Homo sapiens: one gene and its partners. The protein of the gene in region 1 interacts with the protein of each later gene in a pairwise test. Each region holds a gene or a part of one and is shown in the gene's direction. Other genes may lie near its edges.

Region 1 (7,796 bases):
GGGCCCATTTCCATCTTTCCCTGCTGTGTTCCCCAAAATCCTTCAGGGAATCCAGCCTTCAAAGACACTGCAGTTACATTCCCACTTTTCTCCCCATCTGTCCTCCTCCAAAACCACTGCAGCTGCAGAGATTAGGACTTCGTGGAGTGAGGAAGCTGCAGGGTTTCCAGAGTGGACTTTGCCAGCTCACCTCTGGCTCCTAGGAGGCAGAACCCAAATTAGAGATGCCTGTCTCCAGCCTTCCTGGAAATCCTCCAGATAAAGCCACCTGCGGAGAAGGGAAAGGGAAGGGACAGAAAGACCGAAGAAGGCTTGACTGGTTTAACCTGAAGTTGTGCTATAGAGGAGAGTAGTGCAGCTTTTTCATCCTTTAAAGCTTTTAAAGCATTTGCATAGCTTTTCCTCAGGCAGATCTTTTGTTTTATTCTTTCGCAGTTTCTGCTCTCATCTTGCTGGATGAGGGCTGCAAAGCAGACAAGGTGACCCGCCTAACTGGCCTTCCTACCTTCCTCCTGTTTTTTCTCCTTTTTTTCCTCTTTTGCTTTCTCCATTTCTTCCTCATTTTCTCCCTTTCTTCCATAAAAATTCTCTGAGTGCCTATACAATAACATTCTATGCCTCCTAAATATAGTCTGGGCCTTCCTGTTTCTTCTCCAAAAATGTAATCTCCCAGGCACTCAGAAAGATACTCACAACTACCACAAATGGGGAAATGCTAAGGATTCTTACATGAAAAAAGCTGAGGCATTAGGAAAGGAGGAGCTTGATGATTGGAATGCAAGGCCAGAGGAAGTCCCACTTGGGATCTCTTTCTCATTTCAAAGAGTAGGTAACTACTCTTGGAAGTTGTTGAAGCTTTTAAGAAGCAAAGTGGTGAGTTTCTCAACACCTTTACCAATTAACAATTTAATTTAACCCCTCCTCTGTTGGTAAATCTTTACAGAATTGGGATGAGCTCTGTCTTGGATGGAGTCTGTTTCTAACAAATGCTCTCGGGTTAGTTAGATGTTACCTGATCTTGCTGATATACCCATTCATATACCCTTGCAGAATACCCATTCCAGGGTATTCTGAACACCAGATAGATAGCCTTTGCAGAGATGCGGAGATTTGTAGTTGCTAAGTGCCCCGCTTTGGTTTACTACACTGTGAATCACCTCCCCATTACATGTGAGTCACATGTGATAGGATTACAGCATCAGGAATATTGTCTTGGGCAAGCTATAGATTTTCTATTTGGGTTGCATGTAGTTATGAATTCCAAACATTGTGGAGAGGCTCCCTAGGGAGTTTCACAGAATAACAGTTCAGCATCAGTATCAAACATATGGTTTCCTAATTGATAACAGCAATATATTTTCACTGTTCTCAAGGTCTTTTTCTTTGTTTTGAGTGATTTCTATGCTCCTAAAATTAGTGATTATTTAGGAAAATAGGAAGGCTCTCTCCACAGAAATGATCACATTTAATTAATCTAAACTGACAGTGTCCATCTTCATTATGCATAGTGAATATAAACATTAATTTTCCTAAAGTATCAAATGGTACAGAGATATATTAAAGAATGATTGATAGTTTTACTATCCCAATGGTTAATTCATATGACTAATAGAACATATGAGCTGGACAAGATCCATATAAGTCACCTAATCCATCCCTCCAATCCATTTTTAAAATAGTATCTTCAGGAAATTTTTTTATCTTAAAGACACCCCTACAATATGAATTCGTTGTCTGGAAAAGCAATGATTTTAATGACCTTTTAAAATATTTCCACAATATCTGTACAATGTCTTTTATAGTGGAAACTCAATATTTGTCAATTAAATATTTGTTCTAATAAGAATCAGTTGCATGTACCTTGTTAATTATATCAAAAATTAAATTTCTACTGAAACCATGTGCACAATTAACATTTCTTTAAGTATCTTTGTTAGTAACGAAAAAAACTAGATTAAAAATTATTTTATACTTGAATGACAGAGAGAGACCCTATCTCAAAAAAATTATTTTATGATTTATTTTTTGTAAAGATATTAAAGCATTATATTAATACCTCTAAGAGTGCTTTAAAATCTATTTACATGTTTATCCTTTTTGTCTCTTAATAAGTAAAAAGATAAAGTATTTTTACCTATTTACAAGAATAAGAATATTGATAAGTAAAAGAGGGAATATAAATCTAGACTGTGGTAGCTATGTGCTCCACTTAGATCATGCTCTCTTGAGCTATGGAATTATTTTAACATGTTCACCCTGTGAGGGGACCACATCATTGCATTTCTCATTTACAGTTTGTTTCTAAAGGTAACTTATGCACTCTTAAGTGAATCAAAATAGTTTGCGTTGCTCCCAGCTTAAATCATTGAGAACTTTTACTAATGGAAGGGTCTTGGGGATGCTTTAGAAACTATTTAATGAATGAAACAGAAATGGAATAGTAAATTACTGAGGAATCTTCAAAGAGGTTTGACACTTTAATCATAAGGTGCCTGTGAATATGTTCAAGAGCTGTTCTATACCCCTATCAGCTAACTTAAAGTATGCAGATTGGGTAATTTTCACAATTCTTACACTTTCTCTGGATTTCTCCACCTCTTTACTTAATTTACTGCAGTCCTAACACAGACGACCTGCTGTGTAACCATCAATTGTTTATTCTTTTTTTTAATGCATGGTAATTCCAAGGACTTACTGGATTATTTCCAGGTGAGCATTCTATTTCCTTTTGTTCTAAATTACAATTAAGACTTGGAGTACTCTCATTCACCAAGTGGTCTTCAAGCTCAATGTACCTAATACAATAATTACTGAACTTTTTGTAGAAAGTAGATCTCTTTTACTTAAAAACGATTTTATTTTTATGAGGCATTGCTTATAAAAGGCAAAGTGTTAACAAATCAGTTAAATTTATCTGCAATTATTATCGATGCATAGAATGAATCCTATTCATTGCTGCCCATATAATACTTTTCTGAAAATAGAAATCTCTCACTTTTTAAGTATACTTTTTCCTCCTTTTTTTGGATTTTGTTTATTATTTCTTAGGCTCTGAAAGACTATGAACTTTTGAGGAGCTTTATGTAAATAGTTTTTTGTTTTTTTTGGCAAATCATTAACATGTTAAACGTACTTTGAAACCTGGGTGAATTTTTTCTAATGTAAATCAACAGATCCTAATATTTCTGTTATCTTATATTTTAGAATCTTTTTGCAGTTCAAGAGTTCTTGAAATAGTAAACGCTGGTGTTACAGGAGACTAGTGTTTTATATTTTGCATTGGTTTTAGTAATTTGTGATTGGCGTGTTTATTTCTGATTTCTTGAAGTCCAATTTTAAATTTTGAGTAAAATGTCCCGTTGGAGACCCATCAAGCATTATTAATAAAGTTGAAATGCTTATTAATATAATATTTTGCTTTTAATGTATCAAGTAGTGCTGCACAAGGCTCACTTTCAATTAGCAAGTTCTGTTTGCTGAAATTCTTGGCATTTGATGTTACGAGTTAATGGAAGACTATCAATTTTGTTAATTCCAGAAGTTCAAGAGTTTCTGTAACTTTATATAAAGTGCTTGATGTTTTTTGCTTTCTTGTTCTTATGAAAAATTTTATGAAAAATGAAAGGAAATTGTGAAGTAAACTTAAATCCTATGTATAAAATTGTTATTCTTTTAAATGATTATAAAGGTATTCATTCTTGAGTGAGATGAAAACCACTAAACTATTAGTCTTTCCTCATTTTTAGTTTGTGAATGGGAAACTTCTAACCATGATTTCAGTTGGCTCAGAGAAAATTATGAGAGGAAGTATAAAGTTCTTCAGCTAGGTATATTAATACTTAGACAAAAATTCCCAGGGCCATAGTTTATTAGTTCTGTGACCTTGAATAAATTGTTTAAACTCTCAGCCTCAGTTTCTAATAGTAATTCACAGGATTCTTGAACAGAAAATAGAAGATTATATATGTAAAGAATATAATGGCTTATTATTGAAAATGTACAATAAATAATAGTTATCCTTATCATTAGCATCACTTTAATCAGAAATCAATAGCTCATAAACCACTTTGGTCACTGAGTTGAAGCAATCTCCGTTCATTGCACAACTTCTAAATAAGGAATCAAATAGTGAACAGTTTACGGTGCTTACCCTACCTTATAAAACTTAGATTTATTGAGAAAGTGTGCCAAGCTCTGTGTAGTCACTGCAGAACAAAATTAAGTAAGATACAATCCCAGCCTTCAAGAATTTATGCCTAATGGAGAAGACAGATAAATGCAATTTTAAGTCAAGTGAAATGAAAAGGTGGTATGGATGCACAGAATTATTTCAGAATGAAATAAATCCCTGCACTAAGACTTCAGATTTTCTCTTATTCCTTCTTTAAATGCATCCCCTTTCCATTATGCCTTTACTTTATCATCATCACCCTACTATATAATGCCAGCATATAATTGAGTCCAGAATATGGAAGTGAAAGGAAATTTTTGAGTTTATTTCCTTATTGGATATATTTTATTATCTATGAATTACTGTTCAGTGTAGCTAAATAACACGTTTCCCTTCTCCCCCAACCTGCACTCACAGTTGATCACTGAACTTCAATAAAAAACGTTTCAGGAGCTCCGCTTTTTTGGTTAAATATTACACTGTGATACTTCTATCTTTTAATACTTTCCCAAAACAGGATTTCTATCTGATACTCTCCCCACACCTCCTCTATTTTTCCAACCCATTTCGCGACTAATCATTCAATGTGTGTCTGTGGGAAGAGTCTCCTATGAGCTACTCTTTCATTCTTTTCTCCCAGGCTTTTACAATAAAGAAAAGATACCTTCCAACTGCTCTTTCCTACTGAACCAAAAACAATGTTTCTAGCCCCTCTCCACATTTCCCCCACCCCCACACACATCAAATCCAAAGTGACCTTATTGTTTTTAACTCCTCAAAGAGCATTTTCAATTTCCTTCAGGTTTTCCCCCCTTCTTCCTCTATTTCCTGCCCAATTTCCTAGGAAATTTCAGGCATATTTCTAATCTGTAGATAAAAAAGGACATCTTTTTCTCTTTTTGAAGTCTACAAAACTTGCACCTAAATTCTGAGGTTTCTTTGTATAATAGGACAACTCCTGGATGATTCATAGAATTGAGTAGGGTTATTGTTCTAATTAATCTTTTGAGTTTATTTTCTCACTGGTGAAAATAGGGATAATGTAGTTATCTTATATGAATGTTGAAGTCCTAATATAGTGATGTGTATATAGCACCTGAAAGAGCTTGGAATATAAATAATTCCTTCTCCCCCTGCACACCCCAATCTTCTTTCCTGCCCACATCTTATCTTTTCTGACCACCTTCTCAGTTACATTTCACCATTTCTCCTTGGCTAGTGTTCTAGGTGTCCTGCTGCATTTTTTCCAAGTATATCTTCCTAATTGGCTCATAGTTAAATAATAGGTAACATAACACATATCCCAGGTAGCATGGTGAGCGCAGTCCTAGAAAGCGTGTGCTAACTGAATCAATGCCCTAGCTTAGGCCTGTGTTCCTGCATCTGTTTAGAAAACCTCTTTCATTTGTTTAAGACATGTCTTCTGCTAAACTTTTCAGAGCCTCTAGTGACTAATGTTCAGTTGATGAACAGTCCTCTCCCACTCCAGTGATTCTGTGGTGCTCTTCATAAATAATGTCAGAGGACATCTGACAGTGCTTAATTATCTTCTGATTTTTATCCTCTTTTTTCCATTACCTTTTCCCCCAAGGTGCCCTGAGCACCTGTTAAACACTTCAGGAGACGCCTATGCCTCAACTCTTATGCAGGATCTGGTGATATCACTTGCATATCTTTTGTTTATCACATAAATGGTTCTCAAATAACACCAAATAAATGGCAGAAGAGGGAGGCCATACACACAACACATGTTGCAGAACATGTTCAGATCAGGTTTAGCCTATCAGAACCTTCATTTGCTGAGTGTTTGTAGAAGTGTGCACTAATGCAGATTGACCAAGTGCAGAGAATGGTACTCAAGGTAGGGCTGAGGTAGAGATGCACATACATCCAGATAGATAGATACATACATACACACATACATGATATATACACAGTATGTTCAATGTACTGTAATAGATTGTTTTGTATAGTTTTAAGCAAAATATTTAAGAGTAATAGCTTCATAACAAATCATTACTTACAAGACAGCATTAAAAAGGAAGGCCTATTGAAATTTCTTCATTCTAGATCAAGTGCATAATTGAAAGGGAGGATGGTTTAAATTTGGTGGTAAGAATACCTATCAGCGTTTTGGAAATATATCTTTACAGAAACAAAGAGTTTTTTGAAACACTTCTTTGGGGAAAAATGCTTACTAAATCCCACTCTTCGATATTCCCAGTGCTCATTTTCATGTTAATAATAAGTCTGAGTGGTCCTGTGGTAAAGACCACTGAATCTGTTTAGCTTTGATTAATTGTATATTTCCAAACCTGTTTGTACAGGAAACTTATGTGAAAATATACTTATCAACATTTCATTGTTGTTCTGAAGAACTCAGTTAGAAAAACTGCTTTAGAAAGACAAAAGCTGAACTATGTAATAGAAAGTACACAAACTTAGTAGTCATTAAATGTGTGTTTTAGGCATCACACCTGTGCTTTAGGCATCATAGTGTGTAGCTGTGGAAGACTTACTTCTCTGAGTTTTAGTTTCCTCATGTGAGAATAACTATGATATTACCTACCCTTTGTAGTTACGAGATATTGTGAGCATACTTCACAGACTGCATAATAGCATGTGACAATAAAAAATTTATTGTTCATATCATTCAACTTTAGAATTTTAGATTTTAAAAAGGTGATTTATAATCAAATTATTGATCTTCTGCAAATTATTATATTATGGTTATATCTGCTAAAATATGTCCCCTGTCTTCTCCCCACCCCTACTCTAGGTCCTGGGAAAGAATGATAGATCTATGATAACTAGGTCTTCACAGTTAAATTGAAAAAATGATTTTGAAGTAAAATAATCTGGAAGGAAAAGCCTAAATTATGGAAGGTTTGAGACACATCTGTATCGTTTAAATTTGCCTCTGGATTTCTCATGCTCTGGTTGTAGAACTTGAGCCCACAGCCATTTCTCAGTGGTGTGAACATGTCTTGGCTTCCAAAGAGACCCTTGTGGAAAGAAAAGCAACCACAGTCAAGCTCACGTGTTTGCTCTAGCAAAGAAGCTTTGGAAATAAGATTTTCATCCTACTGGGGTTAAGAGAAGCCCATGAGAGTAACTGGGACTTCCCTTCCAGGAATCAGCATGCATATACAGACCCAAATAATGTGAGTAAGGACAGTAAGACCAACAGGAGAAACTAAAGAGACCCACATATGCATGCAAACACAGGTACTCTGTCTTGGATAAGCTCTTGAACTCATGAACAGAGATGAGTTCTCTTCAAGGACTATGGAAATCACTTTGCAAGAGCTGTTCTGATTATGAAAATCTGAACCTTACTTAGATATCCTAACCCAGTCATCCTAAGGGAATGCAACAAAAAGTTGCTTCTCAGTCCTCTTAGCACATCTGAACACATAATCACTGTATACATGCCAACTCTCGCATAAAACTGGAAATTTCTTGAGGGAAGAAATCATGTCTGATACATGTCTAAGTCCCCTTTGGAGAGCTGTACCACTGAGGCCAGCAGAATAGGTGGAGCAGTAAGTCAACTGTGCATTGACCCATCAATAAATTGTGGAGTTTGGAACTTCCCAGTCAGGAGTTGTTAAAGAGTCCTCAC
Region 2 (7,992 bases), on another chromosome or scaffold:
GCTTTGGACAAAGACCAGATTCCACTGTGAGGCCCTGCAGGAGCTGCCACCTCTATCCTCCTCCCAGGACCTGGTCCCTCCCTCCCACCTCCGGACCGTGGCCATGGCCTAGCCTCTCTGCCCAGCCCCTCTGCCTTGGAGGCCCTCCCCTCTCTCTACCTAGCTAAATCCCACCCATCCATCAGCTGTGGGCTCTGTCATTGTCATTTCTCTGGATGTGCCTTTCATGCCTGGGACCAGATGAAGTCCTCTTCTTCACTCTCAAGGGCTCCTTTCTGAGCGCTTCCAGGGCCGTGATTCTAAATGTATCTGGGTCATTATTGAATTAACACCTGCCTCCCCCACCAGAACCATAAGCTCCAATGAGCGGGGCCCTTGTCCGTCTCATTCATGTCGTAATCTCGGCACAGACTGCGCTTGTCACACAGCAGGTGCTCAGTGAGCAATTGCTGGATGAATGAAAGGTTGAATCAGTCCTGGCTGATTGAACCAGTCCCACGTTCTAGATATGGGACCTTGGGCAAGTCTCACTTTCTCGCATTCATTCAGCAAATACTTATTGAGCATGGATCTACTGCATGTTGGTTTTGGCACAGGATTCAAACCCAGATCTGACTGGCTTCTGATGCTGTTCTCTTTCTGCTTTTCAAGCTCTGCCCTTCTTGCGATGTTTGGGGCCTGGGGAAGGGGTCCAGCCCCACCCTCTCCCACTGGTCCCTGGATGTCATATATGCCAGTCTGCTGTGGCCCCCTGCCTCCAAACATTTGTGCACACAGAGCCTTCTACCACCAACAGCCCACTCGACCTTCAAAATCCGCTTCTAGGGTCACGATCGCCTGAAAGCCATCCCCATAGCCCTTGGCAGAAGTGACTCTCCTGTCACACACTTGGCTGGCATGGAGATGCAGCACTGTCCACCCTGACCCTGCGCTATTTATGCACGTGGCTCCTGCAGCGTCCCCGCCCCACCCCCAGGGCTGCCAGGGCAGGGCCTGGTCTGATTCATCGCTGTAATGGTTGGCCTTGATTAATCTTTCTCTGATCAAACCCTGCAGCAGCTCCTCTTCACGCTCCAGTGCCCAGCCAATCAGGGCCAGGCACTCAGGGCTGATGCATGCTCGGAGCAAGGCCACCGGAGTGGGGGTTCTGCCTGGATCCCCGAAATCATGGCAAGAGAATGGGCTGCTAGGTGTGAAGGGCACAGCCTGGACACTCTCTCCTCTCCACTCTAGCCCAGCAGCGGCATGGCAAAGAGGGCCCTGGGGGCGGGCAGTGGAAGGTCACAGGGCAGATGGGCTATGGGGTGAACTGGGAAAGGACAGTGTGGCCCCGGGGAGGACAACCACACAGCTCAGAGCTGTCTGGACATCGTCTACTTCAGCAGAATTCCAAGGTGAATGTGAGCGTGCAAGGAGAGCCACCGGCCCTGCGTGGCCTGGTCTCAGGCTGGTGCCAGGGCTGGGCTGAGAGGCAGGAGACCTGGGTTCTAGTCCCCGCTCTACCACTGATTTGCTGTGTGACCTTGGGCAAGCCCCTGCCCCTCTCTGAGTGCCAATGTGTACAAGGAGAGGATTGAGTCAATGTGGAACTGACCAGCATGAACACCAGAGGCTGGAGAGCCAGATCTCCAGCCCAGCCACATCTCTGAGTGGGTCAGCAAGGGACCCTAGGTGGGGCCACTGCCTTGCCCTGCCCTCCTGTCCCTGGCTTAGGCTAAATGGGGCACAGTGGGGTGACCAGGCATCCTCTCCCCTGTGAGCTGCCCTGTCGTCTTCTCAAGTGTCCCTCTCCCTGTCCCATCTACCCCCAAAGCTGTCAGGCTGCCAGCAGGGAGCATCAGCTGCCATGACGGAGCATCCTGCGTCATAGTGAGTCAGAGCCCTCCTTCCAAGCCAGATCCAGTCACTCCGTGACAGGAAGAAGAGAAGGACACCACTGCCTTTACAAGCCCAGGCCACACAGGACGGGACCCCAGAGCCTGGCACAGGCAGATCCGCCTTTCCTTCTCCACACAAGGGCAGGCACACACCTGGCACCAGGGCATCCAAGGTGATAGCAGGCTGTCCTTTCTGAGCCACCCTCTCCAAGGCCAGACCTGGAGGGTACAGTTAGGGGGGCTCTGAGCAACTGTGACTGAATACAGCGCTGACTCAAGGATTGGCACATTTGTCTTGTTCACACTGGCACACAGTAGGTGCTTTATATGCATCTGTTGAACGGAAGTTCTCAGACTTCCCTGTGGCTGTCGGGAAGCTGTGGTGGAGTAATAACACATCATACCTGTTTGTGTTCACTATCACTATTATTTATTTTTAGTCCTAAGTTGAGTACCTACTACGTGCCAGTGATTTTGCATATATTAATTTCATCAGCCCTCACAGCAATCCCACGAGGTGGGATTTTTACCCTAAGTTAACAGATGAAAAATCTGAGACTCAGAGAGGCGAAGCAACTTACCCAAGGTCGCACAGCTTGTGTGAGCTAAGCCCTCATTCACCCAGGTCTGCTGACACCAGGGCCAGGCACAGAACCGCTCTCCACCCGGACTTTACTGGGCAGAGAGCACCTAGCTTAGAGAAAGAGAAAGAAGTCAGCACCCACTCCCTGGCTCAGCTGCTCTGGCAGTGCGCCCTGGCCCAGATCCTGCCCCTTGAGAGGCCTCCAGCCCTATCCCACGCTGCTGCCTCAAACCTTATTCATTCTTTTTTTTTTTTTTTTTTTTTTTTGAAACAGAGTCTCACTCTGCCGACCAGGCTGGAGTGTAGTGGCACGATTTCGGCTCACTGCAACCTCCACTTTCCCGGGTTCAAGCAATTCTCCTGCCTCAGCCTCCCGAGTAGCTGGGATTACAGGCTTGTGCCACCACACCTAGCTTTTTATTTATTTATTTATTTTGAGATGGAGTTTCTCTCTTGTAGCCCAGGCTGGAGTGCAGTGGCATGGTCTTGGCTCACTGTACCCTGGGTTCAAGCAACTCTCCTGCCTCAGCCTCCTGAGTAGCTGGGATTACAGGCGCCCACCACCACCATGCCTGGCTAATTTTTGTATTTTTAGTAGAGACGGGGTTTCACCATGTTGGCTAGGCTGGTCTCAAACTCCTGACCTCAGGTGATCCGCCCACCTCGGCCTCCCAAAGTGGTGTGATTACAGGCATGAACTACTGTGCCAAGCCCACACCCAGCTAATTTTTTATATTTTTGGTAGAGACGGAGTTTCACCATATTGGCCAGGCTGGTCTCGAACTCCTGACCTCAAGTGATCTGCCTGCCTTGGCCTCCCAAAGTGCTGGGATTACAGGCGTGGGCCACCGCGCCTGGCCCCTCCTTATTCATTCTTCAAAACATTTCTCTGCTGCCACCAGTGAACCTGGCTGCCTCAACTGGAAAACAGACACAAGAGTGCCTGCCCTGCCTGATGCACAGGTGGGCATGAAGGAGAGAGCGAGATGCTATGTGTGAGTGAGGGTCTCAGACACTGACATTGAGTGCTGTGTGCATGGGAAATTTTGCTAAAGGATCTTCACACCTCAGGAGCTGGGATGTGTGTGTGTGTGTGTGTGTGTAAATGCAAGCGTGCTTCAATGTGAGTGTATAACTGTCATTGTGTGGGTGTGAGTGGGTATGTACACATGGGAGACTGTGTATTCATGTGTAGGTATGTGAGTGTGTGTGCGTGTATGTAAATGCAAGTGTGCATATATATGTGTGTGTATGACCATCAGTGTGTGAATGAGGGGTATGTACACATGGGAGAGTGTGTGTGTAGGTACGTGCGAGTAAGTGTGAATGACTACAGAGGCCGTCCAGGGCTGGGGAAAAAAACCTGTGCCTCAGTTTACTCTGCCCTAGACAAGCCCTGAGAGGCAGCCTTGCCCCCCTCTTCAACCATCGCTGGAGACCCTTCATCCCGCCGCCAGGCCACCAGCGCACTATCTACCCGCACTCTCTCTACCCCACCTCTGGGCATATATTATTTTGCATATGTTAATTTCAATAGCTCTGAATGAGGCGCTGACAGTCAAAAGTCGCTGAACTCACAGCTTAGGGCTCTCAGGCAAGGCCTCTAACTTCTGCGAGCCTCACTTTCATCCTCTAAAAATAGGCCCAATGGAACTGTTGTTCTTGCGCGCACCCCTCCTCGCTCCCAAGCCTTCGTGCCCAGTCGTCGTTGGTGTGGTTAAATTCATGTTGTTTACTTTGTGCCCCAAATGCCAGGAGTCTCCCCGCCCCCTCTGTCCCCTTCCCTGACCTTCAGCCCGGGCAACCCCAGGAGGTGGGGGAGCCCCGAAGGGACAGAGATGGCCCTCCCGCGCGCTGCGGCCACAGGTGTGCCCGAGCCTCCCGGCTGCGCTCCCCCGGGCCCCGCCCGCCGCGCCCCGCGGTGTCGCCCTCCCCTGGCAGCGGCGGGCACTGCGCGGGAGGCGGCGGCGCGAGGCGAGCCGGGCGCGGCGGCAGCAGGGACGACCCAGGCTGGAGCTGAGGCCGAGCTGAGGGCGCCCGAGCCCCCCGCCCCGCCCGTCCTCTGGCTCCGCAGCGCTCAGCCCCGGGCCCGCGGAGACATGAACGCCCCGCGGCCCCACGCACCCCGGGCGCAGCGGCCCGGCCCCGCGGCCCCGTGATGGGCTCCTGCGTGTCGCGAGGTGAGGGGGCCCGGCCGGGGGCGGGGGGATCGGGTGCCGGGGACCCGCGCAGTCCCCTCGCCGCTCGGAGACCTGGGGGATGGGGCTGGCGACCCGCCCTTCACGGCCCCGCCGCACCCCTGGGGACGCGGCGTCCTGAGGGGGACAGAGCTAGGGACGGTAGGGGGCGGGGGCAGCGCAGAGAGCGCACGTGCAGAGGTCACCGCATCCCCGCCCCAGTTTGCAGCCCCGCAGGTGACACGAAGCAGGGTCCCGTGCCGTGCCGCGCTCTCATCCCTACAGCCACACACCCCCTGCCGGGTGCCTGGGAACCAGCTCTGGTTCTTCCTGGCTTCCCGGAGGAACTGCGGGCACCGGGAGAACTAGCAGACCCTCCCTTTCCCACCCCTCCCCAAGACACAGGTCTTACCAGCTCACCCCCACAGCCCCTTCCCACGTCTTACCGGGTGCCCCCATCTGCAGAGCCCCTGAACCCTGTTGGCAGGAAAGGGTTAATGGTGGGGCACAGGTTATAAAGAAGGTTCCCCTGCCCCCTAATCCTCCTCCCCACCCCCATCCTTGGACAGGGGACAGAAGGGCCAGAGCACAGCTGATGTTCCCAGTTACCCCTGGGCCTTTCTCTCTGTGTCTGACCTGTCACCCTCCACTCTCCCCCACGTGGTACCCAAGGAGGTGGAGGGGACCTGCCCTTGCCTGGGGGCCCAGGGCAGGCCCCAGCCTCTTCTATCTGTGAGGAGGGGACACACAGTCTTGCACAGAGATTGGGGGATGGGCAGTTTGGTCTTTGGAGCCCCCTACCTCCACCCCCACCCATCACCACCAGCTTTCCAACAGGCTGTTGGGCAACATTTTAGACAAGCGATTGGGCTGAGCCCTTCTCCCACCTTGGTCTGTTCACCCCACAGTGGGATCAGGGGGGTGTGACTGGGAGTGGGGGTGGCTTTGGCCTTGGTTCAGGCTCTGCAGGCTGAGGCCAAACCCACTGACCACCACCACACCCATCACCCCTAGTAGCTTACCCAGAATAGAGGGGACCTTGTCCTGGGGGTATTGAGCAAGGAGCACAATGACCTTCCCCCATCCTCTGGACTCGAAGGGCTTCTGCTCAGGAGTTCCTGTGGGCATTCAGGTAAGTGGCTCAGGATGTCTCTGGGAGGTATCGGGGTGGAATCCCGGCTGGGGAAGGGGAAGGTACAGGGTCAGGCTGTGTGGGGTTCCTTTACTTATCCATGCATTAAGCTGATATTAACATGATAGCTGCCGTGTGCCAGGCACCGTGTGCATGCTGGGCATCCAGCAGCAAGGAACCCAGCACAGCACCTGGTACGGGAGGCCTGCAGCCTAGCGGGAGGGGAAGGAAGTTTGAAGAGTGAGGAGTGCTGAGGGTTCTTTAGGAGCACCAGGCTCCAGAAACCCCAAAGGTTCTAGGCAGTCTCTGGCTGGGGCCAGCTCCAGGTGGAGGGGATCTGAGTGTTTCCTCAGTGTCCCTTCCCCTTCACTTGGCCACCCCATATCAGGCACCTTGGGGTCCCAGCCCAGAAGGACTGGCCTTTGAGCTGAGAACCCACTGAGCATGGGACAGAGGCCGGGGAGGAAGAGACGCCTGCTAAGGTCACCCTGAGAGGCTGGGGCCCAGGTCCTCTGACCCCACACCTGGGGCTCCCTCCACCGCCCCCTCTGCCAGGGCTCTTTGGGGCCACAGCAGCCAAGATACGCTCTCTCCACCCTTCCTTCTGCAGCCTGGGCTTCCTCAGCGCCCCCCAGATCTAATTGTATAGTCCAGCCTTGTCCCCCTCCTGAGAGGACGGGGCCCCTGGCAGTCTCAACATGCATCCAGGAAAGTTGGGTTGAGGTGAAAGGAATATGGGGAGCCATGTGGGCAGGGGACAGCCAGGGTCCCAGAGACTCTGGGTGGCTGCATCACTGACCCACCCTGCCCTCTCCTTATCACTGATGCTCTCCGAGTGCATACTAGTCTGAAAGTTTTAGGCAGATAAAGCTAGTTTGGGTTATATATGAACACAGTCCCTATCTTACAAGTGGGAAAACTGAGGCAGAGGGCAGTGGAGTGACTTGTCCAGGGCCACACAGCTAGGATAGTATAAGCCAAGATTTAAACCATGGCATGCTGACTCCACAGCCTAGGGCCTCAGTCTCTGCACTCACAGCCAGCCCTCGGCCCTGGTGCCTGCACCTGTCTACTCTCCTGGAGCTGCAGGCTGCTGTGGGCTCCTGAGCCCCCCACCTGGCCCCTGCACCAGCAATCGATTGCTAATCATAGCCTCTGAGCGCTCAGTGCCTCCTAGGCCAGGTAGGCACTGCTACAGAAGGAAGGGTGGAGGGAGTGCGTCCACCCTTGGCCAAGGCCAAGGATTGCAGGCCTCAGGCTGATGCCCATACTGAGCCCAGAGCTTGCACCCAGCTGGGGCCACCCAGCCAAACCCCAAAACCTAGGTCAGGCCACACCTGGGAAAATCACCCCATCCCAGCATCGGCAGCAGTTAGCGTCTGCCTAGTTGGTAGAGAGGCTAGGAGTGCAGAATACGAAGCAGGGCTCCACCATTTACTAGCTCTGTGACCTCAGCAAGTGACTTGACCTTGTGTGTGTATCTCAGTGTTCCCATCTCTAAAATGGGAATTATAATAGTATTGATGTCATAGGGTTGCTGGGCGGACTAAATGGCTTAATTCATGTAAGGCATTCAGACCAGTACCCAACACATAGTAAGCACTCGTACATATTAGCTATTGCTCTCATTTTTACTTTTAATTTTAATATTGTATATATTATAATAGAGACAGGCTCTCACTATGTTGCCCAGGCTTATCTCGAACTCCTGGCCTCAAGCCACCCTCCCACCTCGGCCTCCCAAAGTGCTGGGATTACAGGTGTGAGCCACTGCACCCGGCCTTTAATTTTTATTACCTGTCTGTGCAGACAGCTAATGTGGGCCTTCATGGCTGGAAGGGGAAACCTACAGAGGTTTTAAGCCACATCCTGCCTCATGGGAAAGGCAGCGGGTGGCAGGCACTCGAGGTGCTGAGGACATTGAGAAAGTGATTGGGACCAGATTAAGGCAACAAATGCTGTTTCCAGGAGCTATTTTGCATTCATTATCTATTTTTAAGCTACCGTTTGTTGAGCGCTTATCCTGAGCTAGGCTGAGCCTTTGCTCTCCTGACCTAGTTAGTTCTCATTCAACCCTGTGACAAGGGATGTGGGGCTCAGAGAACGGGAGGGTCTTCCCTCAGGTCACATGGCCAGGGCATGGAGAGGCAGGACTTGAATCCAGGTCAATGTGACCCCAGAGCCTGAGTGTGGAAACCCCGTCCTTTGCTTTCTTACGTCCCT
Region 3 (7,796 bases), on another chromosome or scaffold:
CTGGGGCTGCCCCTCTGTGAGTGCCCACAGCTCAGTGCCCGCCATGTGAGACAAGGGTGCAGTGACGGTCAGGAAGCTGTTTCCCCGCCCCTTTCTCTCCCACCCCTGGCTGGTTATTTCTGGAAAGAGGCCAGCACTCCAGTTTCCTCATCAGGGCAGCCTAGCTGTGGCAGGGCTGCTGAGAAAATGTAGCAAGCTCAGGGGTCTTGGGGAGAGAACAGACCCCAGAAGCCTTTTCCCCACAGCTGGTTCCCTGACTCCTCATTTGGTGCAGCCGGGCAAGCCTGTAGGGGACATCTGGTCCCACAGTGAGCCTGGAATGCACTAGACTGGGTCTTGCTAATGAACACATCCCTCAAGAAGGTAACACGGTGGTCGGACACAGTGGCTCACACCTGTAATCCCAGCGCTTTGGGAACCCAAGGTGGGAGGATCGCTTGAAGCTAAGAATTTGAGACCAGTCTGGACAACATAGTGAGACCCTGTCTCTAAAAAAAAAAAAAAATAGCTCGGTGTAGGGGTGCATGCCTGTGGTCCCAGCTACTTGAGAGGCCGAGGGGGGAGGATCACATGAACCTGGGTGGTCAGGCTGCAGTGAGTTGTGATTGCATCACTGACTCCAGCCTGGGTGACAGAGCGAGACCTTGTCTCAAGGAAAAAAAAAAAAAAAGTGGCACCGGGCATGGTGGCCTGTGGAACTGCTGTTTAGGAACTGCTGGTTTTTTCCTACATCCAGGTATTACAGTGAAGGTCAAACAGTGAGTTCATGGCAGGCCAGAGCTGGAATTCAGTCCTTTCCACTCCTTGGCCAGTGCTTTTACCCGCTTATCCCCCAGAGGGAGGTCCAGATGAGGCCGGTAGCATCTAGCTGGCCGTTTGATGCCTGCTTGGGTGTAGTGGGCTGGGGAGAGTCAGCCTATGGACTCAGGAGGGGGACAGCTGTTTCCGTTCTCTGACCTGGCCTGCAGGCTAAGGACAGAGCTAGGCCCTGTGCATCCTGGCTGGAATGAGGCAGGTGGCTGGGGGAGTGGGGAGCAGGGAGGGCCATGGCTGTGGGATGGAGCGCCTGGGCTTACTTAGCTCTCTCTCCTGGGCACATGCCCTGCTCCAAACCCAAATCCAGGCCTCATCGCAGCATAAGTCCTTACCTGTAAACATCGCTCGTATGTGCAACCCTGTCATTCAAACACCTCAACGTGTTCCATCATTCGTGAACCCATCCCTCGTTTGCTGCATCCCTGCTGTTTTTGAAGTATGGTACTAGGGGAATTGAGACAGGCATTTTGTCCTCAGTGCTTATAGTCCAGTAGGGGAGAGGAGGCGTCTTCTCCCTTGCACGTAGCTGAATCTAGTCAAATGGGACACACATCAGTGTCACTGGGGAGGCACAGGAAAAGCAAGGTGGGGCTGAAGGCAGGGAGGAGACCATCCTGAGCTGAGTGGATCGGATCAGAAAAGGTTTTACGGATGAGGGAATATTTGAGCTGGGCCTTGAAGAAAGCAGGATTCAGAACAGAAAGATGGCAGGAAGGGAATTCTGAGTTGAGGGAACAAGATGAGCAAACTCACGGTGCCAGAGCAACGGGGCTCTGGTGAGACCCAGGGAAGGGGAGCATTGTTCTGTCTTGCATGAAGGCGGGCAGATGGAAGTGGGGTGGCGGGACGTGTTCGGAAGGCAGGGGTGGGGCTGAAGTGTGAAGGGCCTTGTTAGGCTAAGCAGGGCTTTGCTCTGTGGGCAGCGGGTCACTACCAAGGGCTCAGGGAAGATCCGTCTGGCAGTTGTTTGTAGGAAGAGTAGGGAGGGGGAGACTGATTAGTCAGCCATGCCAGAGAGGTAGGTGAGGGAGTGTGGACCTGGGCGAGGGGTTGGGAGTGGAGAGAAGGGGTGGACCCAGCTGACAGCTGGTGTAGAATCCCTGGCCTTCCCAGCTTGGGAGCCAGGCCAGGGGAGGGGGCCCTTACAGGTTCCATTGAGGTCACTGGGAGAATGATCTTGCCAGAAAAATAGACTGGGAACATAAGAGAGAGGAACAGATTTTGAGTCCAGTTTGGGCTTGGATGAAGTGGCTCACACCTGTAATCCCAGCACTTTGGGAGGCGGAGGCAGAGGCAGGAGGATGGCCTGAGCCTAGGAGTTTGAGACCAGCCTGGACAACATAGAAAATAAAACAAAAAATAGAAAAAATGAACTGGGCATGATGGCGGGTACCTGTAGTCCCAGCTACTTGGGAGGTTGAGGCAGGAGGATCGCTTGAGCTTGGTAGGCTGAGGCTGCAGTGAGCTGTGATGGCACTATTGTACCCCAACCTCGGCAACTGAGTGAGACCTTGTCTCAAAAAAAAAAAAAAGTTCACGGCTGGGTGCAGTGGCTTACACCTGTAATTCCAGCACTTTGGGAGGCTGAGGGCAGATCACGAGGTCAGGAGTTCGAGACCAGCCTGACTAATAGGGTGAAACCCCATCTCTACTAAAAATACAAAAAATTAGCCGGGCGTAGTGGCATGCGCCTGTAATCCCAGCTACTCGGGAGGCTGAGGCAGGAGAATTGCTTGTACCCGGGAGGCAGAGGTTGCAGTGAGCTGAGATCATGCCACTGCACTCCAGTCTGGGCACCAGAGCAAGACTCTGTCTCAAAAAAAAAAAGTTCAGTTTGGGTCATTATGAAGATTGGTTACTCGTGGGGCATCTGGAAGGAGGTGGCAGGGGTTAGGCAGGACTGGAGCTTAGGAGGGAAGTCAGGTCAGGGCATTTAGGAGTGAGATTCATTTACGTAAAGATGAGAGGGAGGCTCTGAGGTCACCCATGGAGCTGTACCAGGGAGAGACAAAGATTCAAGGACCAGTCCTTGATCAACGCTAAGTTTGAGGAGTAGGAAGAGGAAGAAGATAAATGAATTTCAGAAAGATAGGAAGGGACCCAAGAAGAGACAGTGACCTGCAAGCCCAGGTCTTCTAGAAGAAGGGCGAGTGGCCAGCAGGATTAAATATCACAGAGATGCTGAGGGAGAGGAGCTGTTCCTTCTGACAACCAGGAGGTCACTGACCAATGAGGAGGGTTTGAGGGTATTTAGTGAGGATGAGGAGGCAACATCTTTAGACATAGAAACCTTTAAAAATTAAGTTTGGGATAAATAAAGGCCAGCAACAGTAACTTAAAAGCAGATGGGTTTACTGAGGTAGAGAAAATATTTTTCTTTACGTTTTCTTTTTATTTATTTTTTTAGACAGGGACTCACTCTGTTGCGCAGGCTGGAGTGCAGTGGTTGATCAAGGCTCACTGCAGTCTCCACCTCCTGGGCTCAAGCAATCCTCCCACCTCAGCCTCCCGAGTAGCCAGGACTACACTATGCCCGGCTAATTTTGCATTTTTAGTAGAGGCGGAGTTTCTCCATGTTGGTCAGGCTGGTTTCGATCTCCTGACCTCGAGATCCGCTCACCTCGGCCTCCCAAGTGCTGGGATTACAGGCGTGAGCCACCGTGCCCGGCCCAGGGCTAGCTTTTTTAAGTGGAAATTGGCGCGGTGGATATGTGGCCTGAGTTACTCAGATGATGACTGTAGTCCTCTCTCTTTTTTTAATTTTTATTTATTTTTTTGAGATAAGGTCTCACTTAGTCTCCCAGACTGGAGTGCAGTGGTGCAATCATAGCTCACTGCAGCCTCAACTTCCTGGGTTCAAGTGATCTTCCCATTTCAGCCTTCAGAGTAGCTGGGACTACAGGCATGTGTCACCACACCCAGCTAATTTTATTTTTTGTAGATACATGGTCTCACTATGTCACTATGTTGCTCAGGCTGGTCTCAAACTCCTGGGCTCAAGTGATTCTCCTGCCTTGGTCTCCCAAAGTGATGGGGCTACAAGTGTGAGCCACTGCACGCAGCTGACTTTGGTTTTCATTCTTCTTTGTGGACTGGGGATGGGAGTCCAGCCTCAGGTCCCCTTCATGATGTGTTCCTGGCTGTGAGGCCTGTGCCCTCTCGTGTCCCATTGGTGGGACTCACTTTGGCATGAGGACTCACTTTGGCTCAAGGTGGTGGGCTGGCTTCTGTTCTCTCCCGAGTTTGCTCTGGGAGTCCTGTCTTCTCAGGGACCTCGCCCCTGGCCTCACCTGTCTTCTTAGAGCTAAAAGTTGATCTTCAGAGTCTGCCTCCGCCCTATTTGGCTCCTTCATTCCCTCTTGGGTCTCCCTTCCCTACTCAGGCTGGGCCCCTGCTCCGACCCCTGTCCCTGCTACCAAGACACTGGTCATGGGGGGAGCTGCAGCTCATTGCAGTGGAGGCTGGTGACTCGCAGCACAGATGGGCACTTTGCTCAAGTCTGTCTGTGTTTCAGAGGATTCAGAAGATTTCAGCTCAAGGAAGATATCTCTAAGATGGAATTTCCCATTTGGCAGGCAAGGTCTCACCCAAAGTTCCTAAATCTCAACACGGAGGTGGTAAATAGTTCACCGGTTCTGAGCGCAGAGGGACTGAGCTACATAGCAGGGGTTTCTCTTCTGGGTCCTGAATGGGTGAAATAATGAATGAATGAATTGGAGCCATGGCGAGCACGGCTGCTAAGCATGATCTGCCCAGTGCTCGAGAGGTCCCAGTCCCCTGTGCTCATCCCTAGCTGGGTATCCTCAGTAGGACGTGACAGGGGTGGGTGCAGTTTAGCAAATGGGACGGATTTAACTGAGTTTCTAGAGACTGATTCATTTCCTCGATGGCGGCAGCCTGTGCTGTCATCCTTCTCTAATATCAGAGAAGTCCTGTTCCATCTATTTTCAGCCTCCCTCATCCCTCTGCAGCCCTGAAGGTGGTTTTACTCGGAGTCAAGGTCCCAGCTGCCCCCCTACCTTGGGGACATGCCTGTTGCCTGTGACTTCCTCATTGTCTGTCACAGAGGGACTCCCAGAGCAGCAATTGCTGAGCCACCCCATCTCAGGGAAGGTGGCAGAATCAGAATGAAAGCACCAAATTAAATCAGAATTAAAGCAATAATTTATTAAATTTAATTAATAGGCTAGGCACAGTGGCTCACACCTGTAATCCCGGCACTTTGGGAGGCTAAGGCGGCAGGATTGCTTGAGCCCAGGAGTTCCAGACCAGCCTGGGCAACACAGTGAGATCTTGTCTCTACAAAAAAACTTTAAAAATAGCTGGATGTAGTGGGTACACTGTGGTCTCAGCTACTCAGGGGGCTGAGGTGGAAGGATGGCTTGAGCCTAGGAGGTCGAAGTTGCAGTGAGCCAAGATTGTACCACTATACTCTAGCCTGGGCAACAGAGCGAGACCCCATATTTAAAAAAAAGAGAGAGAGAACACAGAATGAATGCAGGCCATGGCCAGCCCTGGCAGGAGAGGAGAGATTGGGTGCCAAATCCTGAAGAAATGAGAGATGCTCCCTAAAGGGAGTCCCCCTTTAGGCTGGAAAAGCAGGATGGACTCGGGTTAGGGATGAAGGCACAAAAGGATCAAATAGAAGCATGAGGGTATGGCACAATCTCAGACTCAGATGCCTCAGAGACTGCAGGGAGCAGAGAGAGTGGGGCATTTGATGAGAGCAGGGAGAGGTGTAAGGCAGCTGTGGGTCCCTCCCTGTGAGGCCCATCTCTCAGCCCCTTGTCAGCCCTGTGAGGTCCTGGCCAGCTGCACTGTGCAGGCGGGAATGAGTTGTGTCTCTGCCCTCAGGAGCTGACCTTCTATTTGGGGAGATGACACGCACTGAAAAAAAAATGTAACTAACACCCCCCCACCAGCAGTCTATGCTCACTCTGGTTGAAGTTCAGAAGATGGTTGGGAAGGTTGGCTGTGCAGAGGGACAGGGTTTCAGCCCAACGTGCAGGGAGGGGACAATTGCTGGACGGTCAGCTTGGGGAGGGTGGAAGCTGTGCCTTTGTTTAATTTGCCCGTATTTCATCACGAACAGTGTAGCATGACGCTTGGCTCATTCAAGGCAGTCAACAAGGTCTAATGAATGACAGATGATTTGTGCAGGCAGAGACACCTGAAGATGGTGACAAAAGCCAGGAGGTGAGGAAGCTCAGAGCACGGCACTGCCAGGGACAGGATGAGACTAGCTCTGGCTAGAGTGTGGGGCTCGTGTTCGGGGGAGATTAGGCCACCCTGATGAGTTGGGGCCAGTTGGGAAGAACCTTGAATGCTGAGCCAAGTGGCTCTTTCTCTCAGCCCTCTGAAGACTCTAGCCTGTTTTCTTCCAGATAGCCCCTCCCTATTCCCCGCTCTCTCAGATATTTTTGGATGCTTCTAGAGCAGGGACTGTACTCTGAGCTCAAACAGGTGCAGACAAAGTCTGGCCTGGAGTTCTGGGCTTGTAGGAAGTGGCTTGTGCTGGGAGCTCAGGGGAGAGTCCCGGGGTTTGGGAGCCCCCGCCTCCCCCCACCACTGGATTGCTGCCAAAACTGCAGCCCCCGGTCCTCCTTCAGGTAGTCATTTGGCTAGGACCTAGGCCAGCTCAGTTTTCTCCCATAGAATTTCCCCTAGGCTGGGCACGGTGGCTCTTGCCTGCAATCCCAGCACTTTGGGAGGTTGAAGCGGGTAGATCCCTTGACCGCAGGAGTTCAAGAGTACCTTGGGCAACATGGAGAAACCCCATCTCTACAAAAAAATACAACAATTAGCCAGGCATAATGGCCTATGCGTGTGGTCCCAGCTGCTTGGGAGGCTGGAGCAGGTGGATCTCTTGAGCCCGGGAGGTCATGGCTGCGGTGAACTGTAATTGTGCCAGTGCACTCCAGTCTGGGTGCCAGAGCAAGACTCTGTTGAAAAAAAAAAAAATTCGTCTAGATGGCAATAGGTAAAGGCTTGACCAAGCCATTCCTTTGGAAGCCATGCCACTGATGGGCCTCCAACTTACACAGCATTTAGGGCCTGATGTGACCACCTGTGTCCCTGTGTCCACCAGAGAGGCCTCTAGCCAATTTGTTGATTACTTAGTGTCAAGTAGTAGATGATTACTTATTTTTCTTGCACTTACCCAAGGAGATCAAGAGACCGGGAGTGCTCTCTAGGACTTGGGAAGAATCTGGAAAAGAACTGGAGAAGTGTCAAGTACTCACCCTGTCCTGGGGAGACCATCCTGGCCTCGGGCTCCCAAGACACCAGCCCACCTCCTTTCCTGCCTTTGTTTCCTTTCCGAATTGGTAGTTAAGCTGGTGAGCACTCCACCAAGTCCCTCCTTGCTTGGCGCTGTCTACACAGAGGCAGAGCGGCTGGCCTGGGGTGGGGCCCAGCGGGAGCACCGGAACCCGGGGGCAGAGCAAATGCTGGTTTTGTCACAAATCAGCCGCCAAGTCCCTGACTATCTCTGCGTTTGTTTCTTCACCCATAAAATGGGGATAATGATACTTGCTCTATTTCCAGCATGGGGCTGTTTCGTGACTATAATAAGAAAATGGCTATCGGATGCTTAAAATATTTTTTGATAATAGATACTTTCTAAGCTTAAAAGGACTATGACAAGAATGACAGGTTATCACTCTTGTGAGTATGCGGCAACTTGATATTTGCCTCCAGTTTCCTGAAATATCATGAAACTTGACCAACCAGGGGAATCCATCAACACGCCTCCCCTGCTCAGGACTGTTAATATCCTTGGGATTCTCTGTCCTCAAAGAGCTTACAGACTAGGAGGGGAGACAGCCCCTGCTCATGACATGAATAGAGAACCATATAAGGTAGACGTAATCAGCAGCTAAAAATAAGCAGCCTGAGAGTGCAGAGAAAGGGGGAGCGGTTGTCGGGGCATGCTTCCTGGAAGGGGGGCTCGAGCTGGGTTTCAGAGCATGTGGGCCCCA

Evidence for each region. Proteins that work in one complex are often made in the same cells at the same time.
Region 2: the proteins of VSNL1 (region 1) and FAM131C interact in binary tests that used the Homo sapiens proteins (3 or more experiments, as listed by UniProt).
Region 3: the proteins of VSNL1 (region 1) and SRL interact in binary tests that used the Homo sapiens proteins (3 or more experiments, as listed by UniProt).

Annotation. Positions count from the first base shown.
Region 1 is NC_000002.12:17,543,315-17,551,110, forward strand, and holds part of VSNL1 (visinin-like protein 1), read left to right. Parts: intron 1-7,796.
Region 2 is NC_000001.11:16,070,069-16,078,060, reverse strand, and holds the start of FAM131C (protein FAM131C), read left to right. Parts: upstream 1-4,409; 5' UTR 4,410-4,618; coding exon 4,619-4,640; intron 4,641-7,992.
Region 3 is NC_000016.10:4,231,498-4,239,293, reverse strand, and holds part of SRL (sarcalumenin isoform 1 precursor), read left to right. Parts: intron 1-7,796.